2 separate regions of the Homo sapiens genome follow, and region 2 is linked to region 1. The links come from fine-mapping of genetic effects on gene expression. Tissue or cell type: whole blood. Region 1 holds a variant in brackets; the other region holds the start of a gene. All regions are shown on one strand. Distances are between the middles of the regions. Region 1 overlaps LOC107985876. Region 2 holds the start of LINC01819 (long intergenic non-protein coding RNA 1819).

The links. PIP is the estimated chance that this variant, and not a neighbour inherited with it, causes the effect.
Region 2: it holds the start of LINC01819, and the variant in region 1 is fine-mapped to the expression of LINC01819 in whole blood (TOPMed, PIP 0.94).

The regions. Positions count from the first base shown.
Region 1 is chr2:43,053,821-43,065,755 of GRCh38, reverse strand. LOC107985876 reads left to right here. Exons shown (of 3, transcript XM_047446566.1): 3 at 1-1,711. Among named protein-coding and RNA genes, the nearest start is that of LINC01819, 20 kb to the right of the region's middle. The variant G/A (reference allele first, on the strand shown) is at 4,702.
Region 2 is chr2:43,032,151-43,044,085 of GRCh38, reverse strand. It overlaps LINC01819 (long intergenic non-protein coding RNA 1819), which reads left to right and starts at 4,543. Exons shown (of 6, transcript NR_110585.1): 1 at 4,543-4,966; 2 at 7,321-7,390; 3 at 8,934-9,031. RefSeq lists enhancers at 257-1,198, 1,842-2,136, 1,199-2,140, 2,141-3,083.

The DNA of each region.
Region 1 (11,935 bases):
ACCATTTGCCCTCTCTGGGCCTCACTTTCCATACTTGGAGAATAGGAATGGTACTAATAATCGTCCCTCTTCACAGGGTTACAGTAAGGATAGATGAGACTGAGATGTAAAATGTATTCTGTCAGCCAGTGATCACATCTTGTTTGACCAATACATGTAAAATTTTGACCTATTACTCACACATATAATCGAAACAAAAGTTTATACTTATCTGTTATATTCTGTTGAATGCATTGATCTAGTCTATCCTGTTCTGTTTCTTTCTATTTTTTAAAAAATCACAGATCATAATGCACTGGGTCTTGAACTACAGTTTCAGAAACACTGTCATAAACCATGGAAGGGGATATAAAAGCATTTGTGGTTTCATCACCTAGAGAGCTTGCTGGAAGTGGGGCCTGGAGTAGCCTTGGGAGCTGCCACCCTAGGCACACCAATGGTGACCCCAGTGCCACTCATCACTGGCCTATGTGGGCCTGCTCCTCTGTGGTGGACTTGAACCTTACTGCTCCAGCCATCTCCCCTGCCTGCCTGTCAAGCCTCGCTGTTGACTGTAGTCATCTTCATGCCAAAGGCCAGACATAGCCTGCGAGACTTGGATGGGACCTCGAGGGTCATCTCATCTCTCACTTTATATAGGAGAAAACTGAGGCCCAGCCAAGGAAAGTGACTTATTCAAGGCTGCCCAGTGAATGGGTGGCAGAACCAGAACTAGAGTTCAGATGTCCCTCTGTCAGCCCAAGGCTTGTTTTCATTACGGCCTTGTTATCTGCCTGATTGCAAACCCAATCCCCCCTTCTCTCTATGTCTTGGGTTCGGGAACCACTCCTGGCCTGAGCAGAGCAGGAATAAAGCAGCAGGGCCAGTCTAAAGTCTGCACATACTAACCATGTGGCCAAAGGCAGGCCTGTTAATACTTCTAAGCCTCAGTCTCCTTCTCTATAGAGTGGGAATGATGTTTTCTGCTCTTCCTAACACACAGGGTTGCTTTGTAAATTAAATGAGATAATGTGCATCAAATAGGCTTTGAAAAACCTTTTAAATATGCTTAAAATGGAAGGGTTCTTGAGGGTTGGGGTATGGTTGAATAGGTGAAGCACAGGGGTTTTCTTAGGTGGGTGAAATTATTCTGTATGATATTGCAGGTAGATACCTGACACTATGTACTTGTCAAGACCTGTAGAAATGTATAGCACAAAGAGTACATTTTTACACAAAATAAAAGAATCATTTAGGAGATCAGAGGATACGAAGATGGAATGCAAAATGTGACAAAACTATTTAACTGGATTAAAAACATGTAAAACAACTTCACTGAAGTGGGGGAGGGGTGGGAGTTTTTGATCTAAGCAACTTTGGAAATGAGTGGAGTCTATAAGACTAAAGACTAAAGAAACTGTGCCTAAGCACTATACTCTAGTTGATAAAGTAGCTTCTCATGGAGTGTGGTTAACAATTCCAGTACCACTATACATGTGTATTGGAACTGAATGAGTAAGTCAATGGATAGTGGATGGTAACAGACAGGTTTCTCACTGTGGGAGTGGAAGGTTACAGACAGGCAAGGGGAGAAGGCTAGAATGATCCTTGTGATAATTTATTAGAGTTGTAATATTAGTATGAAATCAAGTTTAGATTGCACTCCATCCAGGGCAACAAGAGCGGAACTCCGTCTCAAAAAAAAAAAGGTACCTCTCCCTCTCCCTCCCCCTCCCCCTCCCCCTCTCCCTCTCCCTACGGTCTCCCTCTCCCTCTTTCCACGGTCTCCCTCTGATGCCGAGCCAAAGCTGGACTGTACTGCTGCCATCTCGGCTCACTGCAACCTCCCTGCCTGATTCTCCTGCCTCAGCCTGCTGAGTGCCTGCGATTGCAGGCGCGCGCCGCCACGCCTGACTGGTTTTCGTATTTTTTTGGTGGAGACGGGGTTTCGCTGTGTTGGCTAGGCTGGTCTCCAGCTCCTAACCGCGAGTGATCCGCCAGCCTCGGCCTCCGGAGGTGCCGGGATTGCAGACGGTGTCTGGTTCACTCAGTGCTCAATGGTGCCCAGGCTGGAGTGCAGTGGCGTGATCTCGGCTCGCTACAACCTCCACCTCCCAGCCGCCTGCCTTGGCCTCCCAAAGTGCCCAGAGTGCAGCCTCTGCCCACCCCGTCTAGGAAGTGAGGAGCGTCTCTGCCTGGCCGCCCATCGTCTGGGATGTGAGGAGCCCCTCTGCCTGGCTGCCCAGTCTGGAAAGTGAGGAGCGTCTCTGCCCCGCCGCCATCCCACCTAGGAAGTGAGGAGTGCCTCTTCCTGGCCGCCATCCCATCTAGGAAGTGAGGAGCGTCTCTGCCCGGCCGCCCATCGTCTGAGATGTGGGGAGCGCCTTTGCCCCGCCGCCCCGTCTGGGATGTGAGGAGCGCCTCTGCCCGGCCGCGACCCCGTCTGGGAGGTGAGGAGCGTCTCTGCCCAGCTGCCTCGTCTGAGAAGGGAGGAGACCCTCCGCCCGGCAGCCGCCCCATCTGAGAAGTGAGGAGCCCCTCCGCCCGGCAGCCGCCCCGTCCGGGAGGGAGGTGGGGGTCAGCCCCCGCCAGGCCAGCCGCCCCGTCTGGGAGGGAGGTGGGGGGGTCAGCCCCCCGCCCGGCCAGCCACCCCGTCCGGGAGGTGAGGGGCGCCTCTGCCCGGCCGCCCCTACTGGGAAGTGAGGAGCCCCTCTGCCCGGCCACCACCCCGTCTGGGAGGTGTGCCCAACAGCCCATTGAGAACGGGCCATGATGACAATGGTGGTTTTGTGGAATAGAAAGCGGGGAAAGGTGGGGAAAAGATTGAGAAATCGGATGGTTGCCGTGTCTGTGTGGAAAGGAGTAGACATGGGAGACTTTTCATTTTGTTCTGTACTAAGAAAAATTCTTCTGCCTTGGGATCCTGTTGATCTGTGACCTTACCCCCAACCCTGTGCTCTCTGAAACATGTGCTGTGTCCACTCAGAGTTAAATGGATTAAGGGCGGTGCAAGATGTGCTTTGTTAAACAGATGCTTGAAGGCAGCATGCTCGTTAAGAGTCATCACCACTCCCTAATCTCAAGTACCCAGGGACACAAACACTGTGGAAGGCCGCTGGGTCCTCTGCCTAGGAAAACCAGAGACCTTTGTTCACTTGTTTATCTGCTGACATTCCCTCCACTATTGTCCTATGACCCTGCCAAGTCCCCCTCTGTGAGAAACACCCAAGAATGATCAATAAAAAAAAAAAAAAGTAAAAAAAAAAAAAAAAAAGAAATCAAGTTTAATATAGATACAGATAGTGACATATAGGAATATTTATATGTTTGTGTATATCTGTTGTGATATACATACAGGTTAGTAGATACACATGTATTTCTATGCTCTGTCAGCTAAGAGGGCCTAGAAGTAATGACAGCCCAGTAGCTGTGAGCACACTTAGTGCTCAGATTTTGGCTTCTAATATCATTCTCCAATTTTAAAAACCCCCACAAAAACCAGGGCTTCTTGTAAAAATGGCTGATTCTAGGATTGGAACAGGAAATGTACAAGATGAACCTGGAACATCTTGTAGTGCCAGAAAGTAAGGAAGATCTGAGGAAGAAATGATGGGAGTATGTCAAAGGGACACAGGAGACAACTGGTAGAGCTCCAGTGGCTAAAGCTGGAACAAAGTGAGCAATAAAATAAATACAGTAGTATTGGATAATTACCCAAAGTAGAAGAGAAATATCCCGGCTCACGCCTGTAATCCCAGCACTTTGGGAGGCCAAGGCAGGCAGATCATGAGGTCAGGAGTTCAAGACCATCCTGGCTAACATGGTGAAACCCCATCTCTACTAAAAATACAAACAACTAGCCAGGTGTGGTGGCAGGCACCTGTAGTCCCAGCTACTCAGGAGGCTGAGGCAGGATAATCACTTGAACCCAGGAGGCAGAGGTTGCAGTGAGCCGAGATCATGCCACCGCACTCCAGCCTGGGCAACAGAGCAAGACTCCATCTAAAAAAAAAGAGAAATATCCATGAGTTTGAACTTATATAAATAAATGGCTACATAGAGAAAAGGGGGAGAAGATACAAAAATACAGAATTGCAGATGATATTCACAGATACTCAAGGATGAGCATAGCTCCCTGCTCCTTAAATGTGGGCTCCACATAGCAACTTACCTCCAAACAGTATACACGGAAAGGGGAAGAAAGAATAACTTCATAGTGGAGAAACCTGACAAACACTACTTCTGTTAACTGTGAACGCAGTTGACATCGACAGTGACAGGTCATGGTGGTGGCATATACTCTTGATAGGATGTAATGAAAGTGGCACTTCACCTTTGAGGTCTTGCTCCCTCAAACCCATAACCTAAAACATCAGACAAATCCCAGCTGAGGAACATTCTACAAAATACCTGACCAATACTCCTTGAAATCATCAAGATCATCAAAAACAAGAAAAGTCTGAGAAACTGTCACAGCCAAGGGAGACCTAAGAAGACATGATGGCCAAATGTAATGCTGCATCCTAGAACAGAAAAAGGATATTAGGTTAAAAAAAAAAACAACTAAGGAAATCTGAATAAAGTATGAACATAGTTTAATAATAATGTTAATCTTGTAGGGCTGATATCAATAGCAGTTTATTAATTGTGGCAAATGTACCGTACTAAATGTAAGATGATGATAATAGGGGAAATTGGGTGTGGAGAATATGGGAACTCTCT[G/A]TATTATCTTTGCCATTTTTCTTTAAAACTTTTCTAAAGTAAAAATTTTATATCGAAAATTGAAAGCCTTACATTGGTAATTATTCACAGCTTATGGCTAAGACAGGTGGAATTGGGAGAATGCCCTGGGAAGGTTTCAAGGAAGTACAAGGGAGGATTTGGGGAACTGCTCAGGGGTGAGAAATACAGCTTGGGAGACAGGGCGGAGGGGAAGCTCGGTGCACATCCCAGACTGAGGAGGTGTCAGAGGGAAAGGGTCCTTGGGACAGGGTGTCTTGGGACCCTTTCCTGCCTGGGAGGGCTTCTGGAGGAGGAGGTGAGTGGATGGGGAGTGACAGCCTGGCTCTTTGCTCTCCTACCTTATCCTGACCCACCTTGCCACATCTCTGGGGCCAGCCCTGCTCCTTATCTGGAGGCAACCCATCAGAGGAGTTAAAGGGTCAACTCTGGAATTGGAAAAGCTGGCCACTCACCAGCATGTGACCTTGGATAAGGCTTACACCCTCTCTGAGCCTCAGAGTACTCATCTACAAAGAGTGGTGAAAAATCTGTGTCAGAGGGTTCTTGCAAAGGTAAGTTGAGATAATGCCCATGAGGGCCAACACCTGGTACATGCTGGGGACTTGGTGAGTGTTACAGTCAATTTATCTTCCCTTTAGTCTACCTTTGAGCAAGATCAAACAGCCACTTTGCCCTCATACCTGGAATCCAGCCCTTCCTCTGGATCCCACGCCCCATGTGGCAGTTTTAAAACCTGGCCCCCAAATTCCAACACTCTTTCCATCTAGAGATCAGCAATTTTTTTTTTTTTTTTTTTTTTTTTTTTTTTGCTTTTTTATTTTGAGACGGAGTTTCGCTCTTGTTGCCCAGGCTAGAGTGTAATGGCGCGATCTCTGCTCACTGCAACCTCCACCTCCCGGGTTCAAGTGATTCTTCTGCCTCAGCCTCCCAAGTAGCTGGGATTACAGGCATGCACCACCACGCCAGGCTAATTTTTGTATTTTTAGTAGAGACGGGGTTTCTCCATGTTGGTCAGGCTGGTCTTGAACTCCCAACTTCAGGTGATTCGCCCGACTCAGCCTTCCAAAGTGCTGGGATCACAGGCGTGAACCACCACGCCCGGCCTAGAGGTCAATTTTATATCCCCTCCTGTTGAATCTGGAATATGTGACTGCTTCACATAATAGAATATGGCAAAAGTGATGCTGCTGCCAGCTCTGGGCCTAGGCTTTCAGAAACTGTCATCTTCTACTTCCTGTCTCTTGGGGTTTTCACTCTTGGAATCCAGCCACGGTACTGAGAGGGAGGGTGAGCAGCCTGTGGAGAGGCCCATGTGGAGAGGAACGGAGGCCCCAGCTCTCAGCCCTGGCTGAGCTCCCAGCCAGCAGCCAGTTCTCGCTGACTGCCTGAATCATCTTACAAGTGGGCCCTCAAGTCCGCAGATGAGCTGCCCTAGCTACCACCTTGCAGAGAAGAAACGAACCTTCCCACCATGCCCTGCCCAAACTGTAGATTCAGGAGCGAAATTAGTCATTGATGATATTTTAGGCCATTAAGTTTTGGAGTTACAAAGCCATAGTAACCTGAACATCTGCTAACTGGGTCCAGGACTGTTACTATTGCTCCACCTCCTCCTCTTCCTCCTCTCCGCCGTGTGCTTGAGTTGTGATGTGGGTTGTGGTGTGGTGGTTTAGTGGGTGGGCACCGAGCCACACTACCTGGGCTCAAATCCTGACTCTCACATATCAATTGTATGACTCTAAGGAAGCAACGTAGTCTCTCTGTGCCTCAGTTACCGTGTCTGTAAAATGGGGGTGAAAGTAGTACAGAATTGTTGGGAAGATTAAATGAACTAAGCAACATAAAGCACGTAGAAAAGCACCGGGCATGTGTACAATTATTCTGCCAAGCCAAGGCCCCAGCCCTCTTGGGTTCTGGGGTGCTGACTCCCTGGGGCCTCCATCATTTGAGATGATCCCTACCTGGCCATTTGAGGCCCCAGACTTCCCAGGTGCCACCAGCCTACCTCCCCGGACTATCACTCTTCCTGCTGGTGTCAGGCTTTGCCCATTAGGCCAGTCTTGCTCACTCCCATGACACTTCTGGCTCTGCCCCCTGGTCCTTCCCTGCACTGCTATAATTCTGACTTCCTTTTGGCTGGGCTGTTGGGGAAAAAGAGAGAGTGGTGAAGCGGAGGTGGACCCCCGCCATAGAGGGTGGTGCACTGGTGGGTGTGTTGGGGGAGCTTTAGTTCATAAACTTTACTGGGAAACAGAAGCCTTATCATCCACACATCTCTTGGGAAGACATTGATTTTCTTGCTGACATGAGTCCAGAGAGTAAGAAACACACTCACAATATGAGCAAGGCCTGCCGTGGAAAGCCAGAGAATTTTCACTAAATCTTTCTTAGGAATTGCAATGATAGCACGCAGCAGATTCCTGAGGAAGGTGGCGTTGCGTGTTAATTAGGTTTTGCCAGAGAAAAATGAACGTGCTCTAAGACACTTTCCCACGTATGTGTTCGTGCAGGTTGTGAGAACTCAGAAAAGCTTTGCATCCAGGCTGTGCCCAGGACTCAGATTTCACTAGCTCCAGGGGTTCTCTTTTGCAGTGAACACAGTGGCCTCCTCATTAGAGCTTTTCAAACCAGGGTGGGCACTGAGGAAGGGATTGAAAGTCCCCTGGGGCAGAGGGACCTTTGAAATGGGGAGCCACTGCCCCAGCCTGAGAAGCAGAGAACAGTGACCTGGGGGGGCGTCCATGGGGGTAGCCTGAGTTCCGGAGCTTGGTGGTCCCGCAGCGCTACTTAAAGGTCACTGCACCATCTCCAGTGATTCCCTGAGTCTGCCCTGCGGCTTCCAATTCCCCCAGTGGGCCTGGAAGAACGACCCACTTCATGCTGGGAAAGCCATGCTGATGCTGTTGACCTGCAGGAATAGAATTTGGAACCGTATCCCTCCCTCCATCCCCTCACAGGAGACAGAAAGCAGGGAGGATTGAGAGGATCTGGGCACGCGGGGGTTGCTCAGGAAGCAGGAGGGGGCTGGCTGCAGGGAGAGAGCAGCAGGAGTTCACCTGGGAGAGGAAGTATGTGAAGCAGGCTTGCCGCAGCACCACCTGGCCACCTGATCCCCCGGTGGAGTCTCAGGAATCCCATTTCTGGAGGTATTCAGGCCATGTTGAGTGTGTGGGGAGTGTGAGGCGGAGAGAGCCCTGAGTCAGAATCCACACCATGACACTCACTGTGGTGATGACAGCAGGCACATTCCGATAGGGACAATATTGATCAGTTCAGTAGTTCCTGACCTGTCTGGCTGCAGAGTTGAATCTCCTAGAGCCTTAAAAAGAAAACAAAAAACGATGCTGGACCCCACTGCAGGCTGATGGAATCCAGTGGGAGCCTGACGCTGCCCGGGTGACTGATGGCCAGGCAGGACCGAGGACCGCGGGATTGCACTCGGTAGAGGACCCCCTCCCCTAGTGCCTTCGGCCGTCCCCACAGCCGTGCTGAGGTGAGCAACCAGGCTGCTGGGTGGAGGGAAGGAGATGCCCAGCCCCCTTGGGGCAGGATGGAGTTGGATGCCTCTCCAGCTGCCACTGGCCCCTGGCAGGGCTCAGAGGATGCCCCTGCATTAAGTGAGGACTCGGGCTTTCTGTCTCCCAGGACCCTCACGTCCCTCAGCCTCTGCTGCCTTTGGGGCACCTCTGTGGCCAGGGTGGCTGGGTGGCCTCCGTGTGCTCCCCAGCCCTGATTCCACCAGCCCTGTCAGCCTGGCACAGCCTGGGTCCCCTGCCAGGTCTGGTGTGCAGCTGGCGTGAGGCCTAGAATCTGTCAGCGGCTTCATTGAGATGCTGCCCCATCTCTGCCCTAGTTCAGGGTTTCAGAGCCTTAAGGCACACATCCCAGTCTTTTCCTGCTCCCTCTGTCACCCTGGAAACAGGTCTCAGTTTCTGGCGGCCCAGGGTGGATGGTGGGGTTGTCCCCATAGGGCAGGGTAGGGCATGGGTGGGGGGCAGTGCTGGCTGGCTGAGTTGGGACAGACCTAGCAGAACCAAGGCTTGGCAGGGTGTGGGGGCTGGGGAGGGCCAGGGCAGGCCCACGCTGAAGAAAGGGCCCTTTCTGAAGTTCACCGGCATAAAGGGAATTTTTTTTGTTGGTTTGTCTTCCCTGGTGAGGGTGCCTTCTTCTAATTTACACAAAAGTGTCATATGTGTCAATGGTGGCCAGGTGTGTGGAACCTGTCTCGGGTTCCCTGGGCATTTCCTGAGCCCAGAATCTCTCTCACACCCACCTGGTCAGTGATTTATCCATGGGAAAAACCTGGCAGCTTGTGGAGTTCTGGCAGCTTGTGGGGTTCGGCCCTTGAATCTCCTGTGGTGGGTGACTCTGGATGTGCCCAGCCCCACCTCCAAGATGAGGAGAGACAGGACCTTCTCCTCCCAGACTCCCAGCCAGCCACTCTCCCCTTACCAAGCCCAAGAGGGGAGGATAGTGGGTGGCTGTGTGGAACCTGTCTGGGGTTCTCTGGGCTTTCCCAAGCCCAGAATCCCTGTCACAGCCACCTGGGCAGTGATTTGTCCATGGGAAAAACCAGGTGAGGACTAGAAACCCTGCTTAGTTCTTGCCCTGACTCTCCTGGACTTTCTCCCCCAAAAACCTCCACTTACTTACGCACTCCCCACAGCTTCATGAGGTTTCAGGGGAGGTTGAAGACCATGCTCTGGATGTGAAGTCATTCGGCCTGGACTCTGGTCCCGGCTCAGCTGCTCCTGCATCCCCCCAGTTCCCAGGGCCCCCATTTGCCCATCTGGAGACAGGGCCTTGCCCTTCCCAGGCAGGACTGCAGGTGAGTGTGTGGACTGGCACCTGGCTGGCCCACTGGGGTCCCCTCAACTCTGAGTGGGGTACATCAGTGACTGCTGTGGGTGCCTGCCCAGGTCCCTTCACCAGCCCATGATGCAGATCCCAGCTGCTATGGGAGAGTTGGCTGCTGAGGCTCACTGCTGCCTGCTTCTCTGAAGAATTGTCCTGTCTGACCAGCTGGGAGATTATCCCCTCCCAGATGCCCATTCCCCAACTTCATCCCCATTCCCCAAAACCAATGTCTGACCCAGGGTAGCAGAGCTGGCCCCTTTGCCTTCAGGTGGGACGGACCAATCCCATGGTGCTCCCAAGCTCCTTGGGATCCAGCTGAAGCTAGAGGCCACATCTTTGCCTTGGTTTCTCCCTGGCCCCATCCCGCTTCCCTCACTGCCCTGCTCCTGAGAACACTCCCCAATAAACCACATTCACTGGGTCCCCTCCCAGGCTCTGCTTCTAGGACAGCAGGCACGACCTATAAGAACTCTAGGGCCCTGTGGCTCCAGGAGCACCTGACCCTGATCCGGCGATGAAGCAGATCAAGGCACGAGTTGTCCTTGGCTGCAGGAGCTCAGAGTGGGTGAGGGAAGTGTGGCAGCTCAGGAGCCTGAGCTAGGGGCATTGATCTGTGCAGGGGAGGCAGGCTGGAGGAGCAGCTATCCAGCCTCGCTCACCCTTCCCCCGGCCCCCACCCTGAGCCTGGCCCCTGGGAGGCACATGTTATTAGTCCTGTCTTACAGGGGTGGCCGCCGAGACCAGATAGTCACTAAGTCTCTAAACCGTAGGTGACCCAGTAAATTGAGTGCCTTTGCTGGATTCCAGTGCCTGTGTCTTGCTCATTGCCCCTGAGTAGTTGCACAGTGTCTGCCCTGGAGGCATTGGCAGAAGCCGGGCCCTTGGCAGGAAGGAACTGGGGGAAAACTGAGTACTGGGTCTCCCCTGGTGTGGGGAAAGGGCCTGACCGCGTTAGAATGGCTGGAGCAGCTGACCCGACCCATCTGGCGGGCAGCTGGATTGGGAAGTTGGGGAGCAAGCTTCCTGCAGAGCTTCTTTCCCTTTTCCTGCCAGGAGAAAGGGGTCTTACAACTTCCCATCCTCATGCTGACTCTACCCTTCCCTGAATGTGCATGGGTGGGTGGCTCAGTGTTGAACACAAAGGCAGGGGTACAATGGGGACATTTCAGGCACCATCATTGGTGAAATTAGGGACACTCTCAGGATAGAGGACTTCTTGAGGCTTTCTTCACATCACCAAGTCATGTACACTGTGCCCTCATCTCAAAGAGCGGGGAACGCCTTTGACACTTGGACCATTCCAACCTCCTTCTTCCACACCCCTGCACATACCACAGCCTGCCTGAACATTGAGACACCCCCTTGGCATTTGGGGAAGGGGAGTCTGGAAGAGCCTCAGGGGAGAGGCCAGGTGCCCTAGCAGAGAGGGCTGAGGCCAAGGAGGAGGAGGAAGTGCTGCATGCTTTAATGACCCGTTCATATTCCCATTCATGTTGGCTGGGCTTGCATTGACACTCCTGGGCCAGTGCAGCTGGTCACTTATGCACTGCAGCCACTGCTTCCTGTGCTCAGCTGGCGGTGAGGCTGCAAAGGCTGGGGTCGCCAGCACCAGCGACACCCTGGCCCCAGCAGCTGCTCTGATAAGCTCAGGCTCAGCCGGCGGAAGGAGGGTGGTGGCCCCTGGCTCAGCAGCCTGGCCCAGAGAGCTGTGGCCATTGTGCTATCTTGCGTGTTTACTGCACACTTTCCTTCTGCTCACTGCCAGGAAAGCCATGGCTCTCTGGACTCCAGGGAGGAGGCAGGACATGTTTAAATGAGTGGCTTTTGGGCTTGGTGAAAGCCTCCAGCCCGTGGGCACACAAGAATGGTGAGGGGTGAACTGATGCAAGTCTGGGGGCAGCGTAGCAAAGTGGATCTCAAACCCTAAAGATGTGCATGCCTTCTGACCCGGCAATCTACCAGGAATTCATCCTAAGGAAATAATATTAAGTTCATACAAGGCGTGAGTATAAGGACACTTATCCCAGCCTTGTTTACAACTGATACCAGTCAATGGCAGATTGCACATTCACACAATGGAGCGTGTGGCAGCCATTTACACAGCGATGGTATTATCAATAAAGCTGCGATGAACATTCTGGTACATGTCTTTTGGTGGGCATATGAACGCCTTTCACTTGGGTACATACCTAAGATGGGTTCAAAGGATTATGTGTGTTCCATTTGAGTTGATGCTGCAAAACAGTTTATGAGACTCCCACCACCAGTTTATGAGAACTCCAATTGTCCTAACATCTTTGTCAACACTTGGTATTGTCAGCCTGTATCGCTTTGGCTCTTCTAGTGAATGCATAAA
Region 2 (11,935 bases), 22 kb after region 1:
CGGGGGGGAAGGACCCCCCACCCCCCAACACACACCAGGTGCTGGGATGCACCAGTGACCAAGGCAGCTCTGTCTCTGGGGCTCAGGATGAGGTCAGGGGGGGTCCCACATGTAACCTGGGAATGTCGATATAATGTTTTGAGGGCTTTGACAGACACTAGAGCCTCAAAAGCTCCAGTCTGGGAATGAGGAGGCCTTCCTGGGGACGCCCATTTATGAAGAAGCTTCCCTGGCTTCTGGGCCTAGAATCCACGAGGAAACCTTGCTTTCAAGGAGTTTCTGCTCCGTGTCCTCCTCCTCTCCACCTCTTTCTCTGCTTTCATTTCGTCGGACTGGCTGCGCCCCTACCTTTCTCTCTGAATCCATCACACCCCTCCCTGACTCCTGCCAGGCCATGGCAGAATTGCTGTTCCCAGGAAGGGTAGGTAAACGCTGGAGACGCAGCAGACCTTTCCCCACAGTACCCTGGCTTGGTGTCCACCCCTCTGCCATGGATGGCAGGAGGGACAGCCCCCCTACCCTGGCCGTACCTTTGCTCAGCCAGCTTCCCTTCTCGGTGACTCCATTACTGAGGCCACAGCCCATCACCCAGCCATCCTTCCTGGGGGAGGTTGGCCAGGAATTTTTGTACATTTATAAGTTTGTATTGTCTGAGGGGAAGCAGCCAAAAAAGAAAAGTTTTATCAGAGAATTGGACTTGGCTTTCCCTCAAAAGCCAATGGGGTTTCTGAGGAACGGATTTGAGGGGACACTAAGGCCTGGGGGGCAGGAAGGGCCTGGGAGTTCTGTGTCTCCCTTTAACTGGGGGCTCCCTGAGGAAGGGGCTGTGTTCCCACCTCAGAATGGGGGCTCTTTGAGGCCACAGCCATGTCCCTCAGTCTGAGCTGCTTGAGAGTCGGAGCCCTGCCTCTGCCCCGACTGGAGTGTGATGATCAGATGCCCCGCCCCACCCCTCAGGTCGAAGCAGGCACTGGGATCCCAAGGTGGTCCAAGGATGTTGCAGGGACCAGTGTTCCTTGGCCAAGGTTCTTTTAGTCCAAGATTCATCTCCCCGCCCCCAAACGCTCTCCTTTGCTCCCAGGTCTCCCAGAGTCTCTTGGGCCTTTGCTTTGGAGACTTCCTGCAAATTCCACAGCCTGGCCCCGGCCCCGGCCCTCTGGCCTGATCAGCCCAGGTTCTCCGGTCCGGCCACTCCTCTAGACCTTATTCTGTTTTTGTTTTTTGTTTGTTTGTTTGTTTTGTTTTGTTTTTAGACAGAGTCTTGCTGTGTCACCCAGGCTGGAGTGCAGTGGCACAATCTCGGCTCACTGCAACCTCCGCTTCCCCGGTTCAAGCAATTCTCCTGCCTCAGCCTCCCAAGCAGCTGGGATTACAAGCGTGTGCCACCACGCCCGGCTAATTTTTGTATTTTTAGAAGAGACAGGGTTTTGCCATGTAGGCCAGGCTGGTCTCGAACTCCTGACCTCAGGTGATCCACCTGCCTCGGCCTCCCAAAGTGCTGGGATTACAAGCATGAGCCACCGCGACTGGCCTAGCCCTGCTTATTCTCAAATTTCCTCCCCATCCCCCTACACACCGGTTGGTTTCTACCTCTAGCCTTTTCTTATGCCATCCCCTGGGCCTGAAGCACGCTTTCCATTTCTGCACTTAGCAGTTTTTATCATCGTTTCTGGCCCAAAACAAAGTCCTCCACCTCCCAGCAGCCTGCCCTGACTGCCCTACCCCATGCCAGCCTCACCTCTCTCCTCCCTCCCCGGAGTTCCCCTCAGAGCCATGCACCCATCACTTTATGGGGTCTGACACTTCCATGCTCAGTCCCATGCAACACACAAGCTGCTGGAGGAGGGGCAGGGGCAGAATGATGGATGAGGCTGCAGCGGCTTTGCTCCCTGCCGGGGCTGTGGTTAGATCTCCCCTCCAAGAAGCCTGATATTTTCCAGGAATTTCCTGAGGGGAGGGGGCCAAGTACTCTGGAATGAAAGCCAGCTGTGGGGTTGAGGCCTGAGGGTGGGGAAGGGGGCTCTGGGCTTCCTGGCTGAGTCAGCGGACCATTCCTAGGTAATTTATGGGCTGAGTCAGAGCTGTGGCAGTGGGGCGAGGGGTGGGGTTGGGAGAGCTCCCTGGTCTCTAGGCAGTCTGTGGAGGGGAGGGCAAGAGGACTGGCTGGAAGTAAGTCTGGCTGAGTCCAACACAGACCCCCTCTCCCCATCAGCCTCCCCACTGCTTGGAGCCTGTAAAAGCAGCAGCCAAGAGACGGAACCGTGGGGGATGGATGCAAGCTGGCAAAAGGGGAGAAGCCCCTGGCAGGCACTGGGGGCTCCTGAAGACAGAGGGGCACGCTGGCAGGGAGGGGCTTGGGCCAGCCTCAGGGCTAATTTGAGGGTAAAGAGAACTGCTAATTCCAGCACCTCAGCCTGGGTGCCCCCTCCCGCCCTTTTGTAGCAGGCCTGGCCTGGGCTGAAAAGCAGATCTGGGTTCTAATCTCCCTTCTGCATGGACCTGCGGGTGACACAAGCTTGGTGCCTTCTCCTCTCTGAACTTCAAGTCCTTACTTGGACAAGATGGCCTGGCTCCTCCCAGCCCTGGATTTGGGGATGCTCCGATGCTGCCTGGGAGCCCAGTCTGATCATGGTGGCCTGGAAATCAAGGCTAAGCGAAAGGAAAGCCTGAAAGAGCTGCACTCTAAGCACCACAGCAGGACTTGCCCCTGAATGGAGATGGGGCTGGGGCAGGAAGGTGGCAGGGAGGGGCTGGGCCCTGTGACTGTCACCTCCAGGTTGGAGGAGTGGGGAGGGAAAGGCAGGGCAGGGTGCGTTATCACACACACACTCACCCACATACACTCAAGCACACACCACAGAGTCCAAGGAAAACCTGTTTCTGTCCTAGCACTGAGCCAGGGATCCCACACAAAGATGGGTCCTGGCCAAGCGCAGTGGTTCACGCCTGTAATCCCAGCACTTTGGGAGGCCAAGGTGGGAGGACAACTTGAAGTCAGGAGTTTGAGACCAGCCTGGCCGACATGGTGAAACCTTGTCTCTACTAAAAATACAAAAATTAGCCAGGCATGGCAGTGCATGCCTGTAATCCCAGCTACTCAGGAGGCTGAGTCAAAAGAATCGCTTGAACCCAGGAGGCGGACGTTGCAGTAAGCCAAGATTGAGCCACTGCACTCCAGCCTGGGTGACAGAGTGAGACTCCGTCTCACAAAAAAAAAAAAAAAAAAAGAAAAGAAAAAGAGAAAGAATGGGTCCTGATGAAGTTCCTAGGAGGCTCCCTCCTGCTGACAGAGCACAGCAGGAGTGTCCCCCTGGGCGATGGGGCCCAGCTTTCCCATGTCATTCATGGGCATCTGTTGCATCATGATATCTGTTGCAGAATCATCCCATAGTGGCTTCCAAGCAGGGCGTTGCAGCTGAGACTGGCCCTGGTCTCAGCATCTTCGGAGAGGCCCCAGATTGATAAGTGTCTTGTTCTGAGTCATGGCTCAAAGTCCCCATGACAGACAGGAATCCCTATCAGCATGGTAGATTTCATAAACCCCAAATTAGGGCATGAGATCTGAAAAAGAATCTGGGGGATTTGTGATAACATGTGAGGGCATACAAATAAGGACTCTTACTTGCTCAAGACTAACAAACTGCATGTCTTGACAAGAGTAGCCAAGATGAAATCAAATGTAGACAGGAGGGTTCTGAACACACGTGGGGTCACTGGTGTGGCTTGGCCCGGGACTACCCCTCTCCCCCTCATCACCCAAATCCACCAGAGCCTTCTAGAGGAAGCATTCTCCCCACTGGTGGCGTGGTGGGGCCAGGGCCTCGACAGGGACTGTTGTAATCATCCAGGTGGGAAATGACAGAGAGGTGGTGAGAGGCGGGTGGGCTCTGGAAGAAGTTGGAATCCTGCTGACAAGATGCTCCAGTGGTTTGGACATGGGTCTGAAAAACTCCAGGACGGCTATCCAAGGTTTCGGCCTCAGTGAATGAAGGGATGGGGTTGCCACTGACTGAGGAAGAGAATGTATTCTATTGCATATTTAATTAATTACTTTGATGTGAAAAGTCCAAATAACAACTATGTCTGGAACTGAGCAGGGCATCCGTGGGACCACCGCCCACAGGCACCCAGGGCTTATGGCACCACCCACCCCCGTCGTGGGAGGCCCCAGAGACCCCGGCAGAGAAAGAGGGAGGCTCACCCTCTTGCTGTGGTGTGTGTGGGAGGGGCAGTGTGAAAAGGTCTGGCCCACCTGAGTCCCCTGGGCTGGTAGGAGAACTGGGGCCGGGCAGGGGGTGGTGTTGGAACAGGAGGGGTGGTGTGTGAGCCTCTGTGGGCAAAGACCCACCGTGGCCCACAGAGGCTCTTTCTCCTCAGACCCGGTGTGCTGTTACCAGAGCCTTCTAGAGGAAGTGTTCTCCGAGCTGAGGGCGGCTCTTTGATTCTCCAGGCCACAAACCCCCGCAGCCCGGCCTGGCCAGAGGCGTGCCTGTGCATCCCGGCAAGTGAGCGCCCAGGGACTCTCGGCCAGAGAGGCTGTGAGGGTGGCTTTGTGAGGATGGCTTTGTGTGGCTGCACATTGCCCTTGGCCAAGCCCCGCTGCCAGGAGAGGCAGCTCGGCTGCCAAACCTCCTGAACCCAAGTTACCTGAGCAAGCAGCCCTATCCCCTCGCCTGCTTCTCACTGCCTCGCCTGCCTTGGGCCTGCCCGACCCAGGGGGTCACATGCCTTGTTCCCCATCAGTGGAGACCAGGGACAAGAAGACAGTTCTGTGGGAAGAGCCAGGAGGACCATTTGGGAAAATACAGGTTCCAGGTGTGTCTCCAGACCTTGAGAGTTGGTGTCTCCTGGGAAGAGGCCCTGATGAGATCTGGGGAGATTCGGATCTGATGAGATTCAGGAAGCCCTGGCCTCTCCGTACTTGAGGAGACGGGACACACAGGACAAGCTGCAGGCTGGTGAGCAGGTATGTTCTGCTTCTTTGAGGACAAGAGAACCCTGGATCCTTGAGGGCTCTCAAGGGGCATTTACAGGGTCTGAGCCTAAATCGAGGCATCAGGTCCCAGAGAGGGCGAGGGTGCGTGTGCTCAGACAACCCGAGGTCCCGCAGAGGCCACCAGAGCCCCCAAGGGGGGTCGGAGAGAGTCCACTTCCCGCCAGAGGTGCGATGTGGCCACATCACTGGGCACCTAGTCCTTCTTTCTGCCAGCCTCAGCCATATGATGAGCAACCAACGCCTAAAGCTTCCTGAGCTGGAGGCGGGGAGGCAGGACTGGGGAGATTGGAGCTGGAGTGGAGTGGGCCTGAGCTGGGGACGGTGGGGTTCCTGTGACCCCGCAGGGTGAATGCCTGAGCTGGTTGCTCTGGATATGTGACCTGCTCCTCCCTTCTGTAAACTCTTCACCCTGATCTGGAGAAGGTGATCCCCAAGGGCTAGGACCCACCCACCCAGAAATACACTAAATAAGTAAATGTGCTCTGTTCAGATTTTATCTAATCAGGATTCCAGAGCACAAGACAAATGGCCTCACGTCCGGCTGGGAGGTGTAATTCATTCTCCTGGGTGAGTCCAAAGCCTGGGGCAGAGTGGGGAGAGGAGGGGCGGGGTGATTTAGTGTAGTGGAACGTGCACTAAGGGTCTGGGAGGCCCTGAAGCTTGGAGTGCAGGGCCCAGCGCCAAGACCTCCAGAACAACCCAGCCTTCCTCGGGATCTGCCCAGGGATGGAAACGAACCCTAGTGTCCTTTCTTTCAGGGAGTCTATTTCTGGGACTTATTCCAGGGAATATACATAGGTGGTCATTCAAAGATTTAGCCACAAAGTTGTCCTTCACTGTGACTTCTAAGCCTGAAAAACCGGAAGCAACCTAAATGTCCAAAAATGGGGCATGGGTTAAATACATTGTGAAACATCCAGAAAACAAAACACAATTGAGCCTTTAAAAATGATGTAGAAGAGCATCTAATGACATAGAAATAAGCAGATAGCATAACGAACAGAATAATACAAAGCTGAGATGTATATAAAATAATCTGATTTTTAAATCATTGATTGGGCTGGGCGCAGTGGCTCATGCCTGTAATCCCAGTACTTTCGGAGGCCGAGGCAGGCAGATCACCTGAGGTAGGGAATTCGAGACCAGCCTGACCAATATGGAGAAACCTCATCTCTACTGAAAAATACAAAATTAGCCAGGCGTGGTGGCACATGCCTGTAATCCCAGCTACTCAGGAGGCTAAGGCAGGATAGTTGCTTGAACCCGGGAGGCGGAGGTTGCAGTGAGCCGAGATTGCACCATTGCACTCCAGCCTGGGCAATAGTGAAACTCCGTCTCAAAAAAATAAATAAATAAATAATAAAGCATTGATTTATGAAAAACGTTGGAAGGATATACAATAAAACATTGACGAGTGGTGAGCTAAGGGGTAATTTTAGATTGCTTCTTTTTCTTTGTTTTTATTTTGGTTTTCCTTATTTGAATTTTTAATTTTTTTAGCATAATCATGCACTTACACAATAGACAAATATAAGGAGAGCTATTACTTTACAAACCAGAATCTCCGAGATTTAGCTCAGGAAGAATTCCTGGGTAGGAGAGACAGCTGGCTCAGTCAGCCCTCACTCCACCTCCCTCTGTGCACTCTCCTCTTTGGGTCACTTTTCTTCATTCCCACGGCTTCTTTCTGGCTGGGCCCCAGGGATGCCACCACTTTTTTAATTCTGTGGGCCAAACATAGCTAGAAACCCAGCCTTGGTGGTTGTTTGAGACCGAGTCTCACTCTGTCACCCAGGCTGGAGTACAGTGGCGTGATCTCGGCTCACTGCAATCTCCACCTCCCAGGTTCAAACAATTCTTATGCTTCAGCCTCCTGAGTAGCTGGGATTACAGGTATGTGCCACGACACCAGGCTAATTTTTTGTATTTTTACTGGGTTGGCCAGGCTGGTCTTGAACTCCTGGCTTCAAGTGACCTGCCCATCTTGGCTTCCCAAAGTGCTGGGATTACAGGCGCGAGCCACCACACCTGGCCGAAACCCAGTCTTTCGCTTCTTTTAACAAGCACAGCTAAGAAACCTGGGAAGATCAGACCAGATGGCACTAATAAGGGCACTGAAGGGAAGGCAACAGGACGTAAACATGGTGCCCAGAAGAACTGTAAACCCAATCCAGCTTCCCAAGGCAGGGGTGTCCTAGTCCTACCTTAACCAGTTACCCTCTGGAGGCTCCCAACTCCTGTCCATCCTATGTGGAGGTTTATGAGGGGACAGAGACCCCACCAAGTCCTTTGTCCCATCATAATTTTTATCACCTTCTTTTCAGGTTCACCTTCTATTTTGAAGACCCGCTTCTTCCTCAGGTACCTGATCTTGAAAACGACCTCCCCTTTCAGGTAGGACCCACCATGACATATGGAGAGTGATCTAGCCCTTGGTCCAGGCTCCTGATAAAAAATATTCCAGCGCACCCCCAAGCCACAGCACTCATTTCAGAGAACTGGCACCTCACACACATAAAAGGCCTCTCAGGACCCAAGAAGCTCCCAGGCTCCAAGAGCAGATACATTGGCTTGGCAGCCCCAAGCTTTCCTTCACACCACTCCACCTGCCTCAGTGAAAAACAGACAAGTAATCAATGAATTATTTCCCCATTAAAATAAACTAATAGCATTAAAAACTGTAATCTAAATATAGGCTAATTGTAAAAAATATGGAAAATCTGAAAAAGTATAAGAAATAAAATGAAAATACTCCATAATAATCACACTAAATGGAGATAACCATTATTGCTATACACATACACATTTAAATGAAACTGAGGTAATACCATGTGCATACACACATAGTATATATAAAATCCTGATCTTTTTCCATATCAATTACATCATAAGAATTTTCTTGGGTCATTAAAATATTCTTTGAAAATACGATGTAAAATGGCTGCATAGTATCCTATTGTACGGTACAGTGGTTACTAAGCCAATTTCCTAGTGTTAGGCATGTGAACTGTTTCAAAATTGTTCATTATTTTAAATAATAATTTAATAAACATTCTTACACATACATCTTTGCATACATCTCTGATTATTTCTTTCTCTCTTTTTTTTTGGGCGGGGGGGATGGAGTTTCGCTCTTGTTGCCCAGGCTGGAGTGCAATGGCATGATCTCGGCTCACCACAACCTCTGCCTCCTGGGTTCAAGTGATTCTCCTGCCTCAGCCTCTCGAGTAGCTGGGATTACAGGCATGTGCCACCACACCCAGCTAATTTTGTATTTTTGGTAGAGACGGGGTTTCTCCATGTTGGTCAGGGTGGTCTTGAACTCCCGACCTCAGGTGATCTGCCCGCCTCAGCCTCCCAAAGTGCTGGGATTACAGGCGTGAGCCACCGTGCCCAGCCTCTGATTATTTCTTTAGGATAAAGTCCTAGAAGTGGGATTATGAAGTAAAAGGATGTGAATCCCTGCAAAGTTCTTGGTGTCTGGGAGCAATGTGTTTTTGATAAATTGTGTTACCGTAGTCCCCTCTTATCTTCAGGGGACATGGCCCAAGCCCCGCAGTGGGTGTCTGAAATTGTAGTTAGTATTGAACCCTGTATACACTATGTTTTTTCCTATACATACATACCTATGATAAAGTTTAATTTATAAATTAGGCACAGTAAAAGATTAACAACAATAATAAAATAGATCAATTATAACAATATGCTGCAAGAAAAGTAATGTGAGTATGGTCTTTCTCCATGTGTCTCAAAATGTTATATTGTAGATCCTAGCTACCTGAGCTAAGATCTGAGATCTAAAATCTTGATTTTTTTTTCCATATAAATTATATCATAAGAATTTTCCTGGGTCATTAAAATAGTCTTTGAAAATACAATTTTATTTGATTTATTTATGTATATTTTTTGAGACAGGGTCTCTCACTTTGTCACCCAGGCCGGCGTGCAGCAGGGCAATCGTGGTTCACTGCAACCTCGACCTCCCAGGGTCAAGTGATCCTCCAGCCTCAGCCCCACAAGTAGCTGGGACCACAGGTGTGCACCACCGTGCATGGCTAATTTTTGTGTTTTCTGTAGAGACGGGGGTTTCTCCCTGTAGCCCATGCTGGTCTTGAACTCCTGAGTTCCAGCGATCTGCCCACCTTGACCTCCCAAATTGCTGGGATTGCAGGTGTGAGCCACAATGCCCAGCCTGAAAATACAATTTTTAATGGCTGCATAGTATCTCATTGTTTGGCACAATATACACTTTTTTTCTTTCCTTATTAAGTCAAGAACTTCCACCTTTTAATTTAAAGGAAGCACTTCACGGCTTCTCTTTGGCACATCCAAATTTCCAGCATTGCTACTCTTGTGCTTTGGGGCCATTACAAGGTAAAACAAGGGTTACTTGAACACAAGCACCATGATACCTTGACAGATGGCCCCTAAGGGACACGCAGGTGGGTGGCAGCCACAGCATGGATACGCTGGAGAGAGGAATGATTCATGTCCCAGGTGGGACATCAGGGGATGGCCTGTTGGAGTAGGAGTCAGGAGGCCAGTGTGGCCAGAATGGAAACTTGACATCTATTCTTATGATTCTTTAAGGGAAGTGAACCCCACTGTGACAGCCTGGCCTAGGCCAGAAGGCAGCAGAATGGCAGAGGGCAGCTTCCACAGCTCCAACACCTGCTCAGGTGTTTATGGCAGTGAGGAGGGAGAGCATGTCCCAGAGCTGGGTTCCACTGTGCCGGGTGCTGAGAGTCCAGGGCTGACTAGGTCATGACTCTGCTTCTAAGTTGATTTTATAAATTCGGCACAGTAAGAGATGAACAACAACAATAATAAAATAGATCAATTATAACAATATGCTGCAATGAAAGTTATGTGAGCATAGTTTTTCTCTCTATGTCTCAAAATATTGTAGATCCTAGCTTCTAAGTTCAATTTATAAATTAGGCACACAATCCCATGGGGTCGACGGATGGACACTGTTAACAAGCATATGGCATGACAGATAGGGGAGGCTTCCTGGAGGAGGTGACATTTGAGTGGGGCATTGAGGGATGAACAGGTGAATTGGATTTCAACAGGCAGGGAATATATTAATACCTGTTTGCTGAGAAGAGCATAAGGGACCCATCGTTATTAGGGTGTGGACCCATGGCCTTGATCTGGGATTATCACTGGGAAGTAGAGAAAGCAGAGAGTGAGAAGAGGGTTCAGAAGAGGACCCTGGGCCACATGGCCATGTTGAAGGTGGGGTAAGAGGTGGGGCTGGAAAGTGCTGGAAGGGGGCTAAGGAGGAGCATCAAGGCATGAGGAACACCAGTGGAGTGGGCTGTCACAAGATTTAAGAACGACCAACGGAGAAAATATCACATATTGATGGGAGGCCAAGAGAGACAGGCTCTAAGGAGGGCCCAGGGCCGGCAAGCATTTGGTCCCGGGAGACCCTGGCAGGGGCCGGGCTGGTAAAGTGGACAGGATAGAGGTCGGGGGCATTTGATTCCTGCGGCTGTCATGGTAACAAACCACTTCAAACTGAGGGGCTTAAACAACACACATTATTCTCTTACAGTTCTGGAGGCCAGAAGCCCAAAATCAGTCTCGCTGGGCTAACGTGAAGGTGTCAGTCGGGCTGGTTCCTTCTGGAGGCTCCAGAAAAGAATCTGTTTTCTTGCCTTTTCTGGCTCAGTTTCTCGGCTTGTGGCTCCTTCCTCCATCTTCAAAGAGCACCACTCCAATCTGCTCCTCCATCAGGTCACCTTCTGCCTGACTCCTACATCCCTTTCAGAAGGACCCTTGTGATTCCATGAGGTCCACCCAGATCACGCAGGATAATGTCCCCGTCTCAAGAGGCTTAATCTAATCACAGGTGAAAGCCCTATACGAGGTGTCATGGACAGATTCTGGGCCTAAAGACATGAACATCTGTGGGGGCATCACTCAGACTTCCACGGGTGACAAGGGCCCCATGGTGGGAGGGGAGAAGAGGAGGAAACGGGAGAGTGAGGATTCACCAGGAGACTGGCCCGAGAAAGGAGACACGGATTGGACAGGCTCAGCCAGTGGAAGACCGTCCTGCCTGGAGGGAAGTGGCTTTTAGGAGTTTTTTCCTGAGCCTGTTGTGTCTCCTTCCCTCCTTTCTCCCCCAAATCCAACTAGAAAACTAGAAACATAATCTGTTGTGTTGACTCCATAGGTCTTGCTTCCCCTCAACCCAGACACCGACTCGCCCAAGGGTCTTCCAGCTGGCTGAGTTGGAACCTGCATTTTTTAACCACAAGGAAAAGAAGCCCAGAGCTACCAAGAATAATATTTTATTGACTTGGAATGAGTTTTGGAATCTGTATTTTTAACAAGCTGCCCAGGTGATTTTGATGATCAGACAGTTTGAGGTGGTTTTTTTTTTTTTCCTTTCCTCTTTCTCTTCCCTTCAGTAAACTGTTTTTCAACTTTGTTTTTCAGTGAAAACCATTTCCTCCTCGTCGTGGCGCAGGTCCAGAGGCTGCGCCCATCTCTCCCACGTCAACAGTCCTGTGTCCTTGGCGAAGGACTGTTCTCTCATTCAGTGCCTTTCCTCTCTTCCTGGGCCAAATCCCTGCTTTGCGTCTCCCTGCAGCTCATAAAAAGCTGAATTACCTGAGGCAGGGAAAGCCCCACCCACTGTCATTCTCAGGGAGGAGTGGAGTCTGCAGAGGCCGCAATGCACAGCTTCCCTATCCCCCTCCACCCGTGTTTTCCCAGAGCAGCTCTGTTCCAGGCCCGGGGGTGTCCCTGGGCCGAGATGGAATCCAGCCCTGACCACCTCCCAAAGCCAACAGCCCTGAGTGAGCGTGCAGAGAAGCAAGAGCTGTTCCTGATGCAGAGCAAAGACATCTCCCAGTCAAGGGGGATGAACTGATTTGGGACAAAAGGCAGTTGTTGGCTGAGGAAGGCAGGATCTGGGGGAGC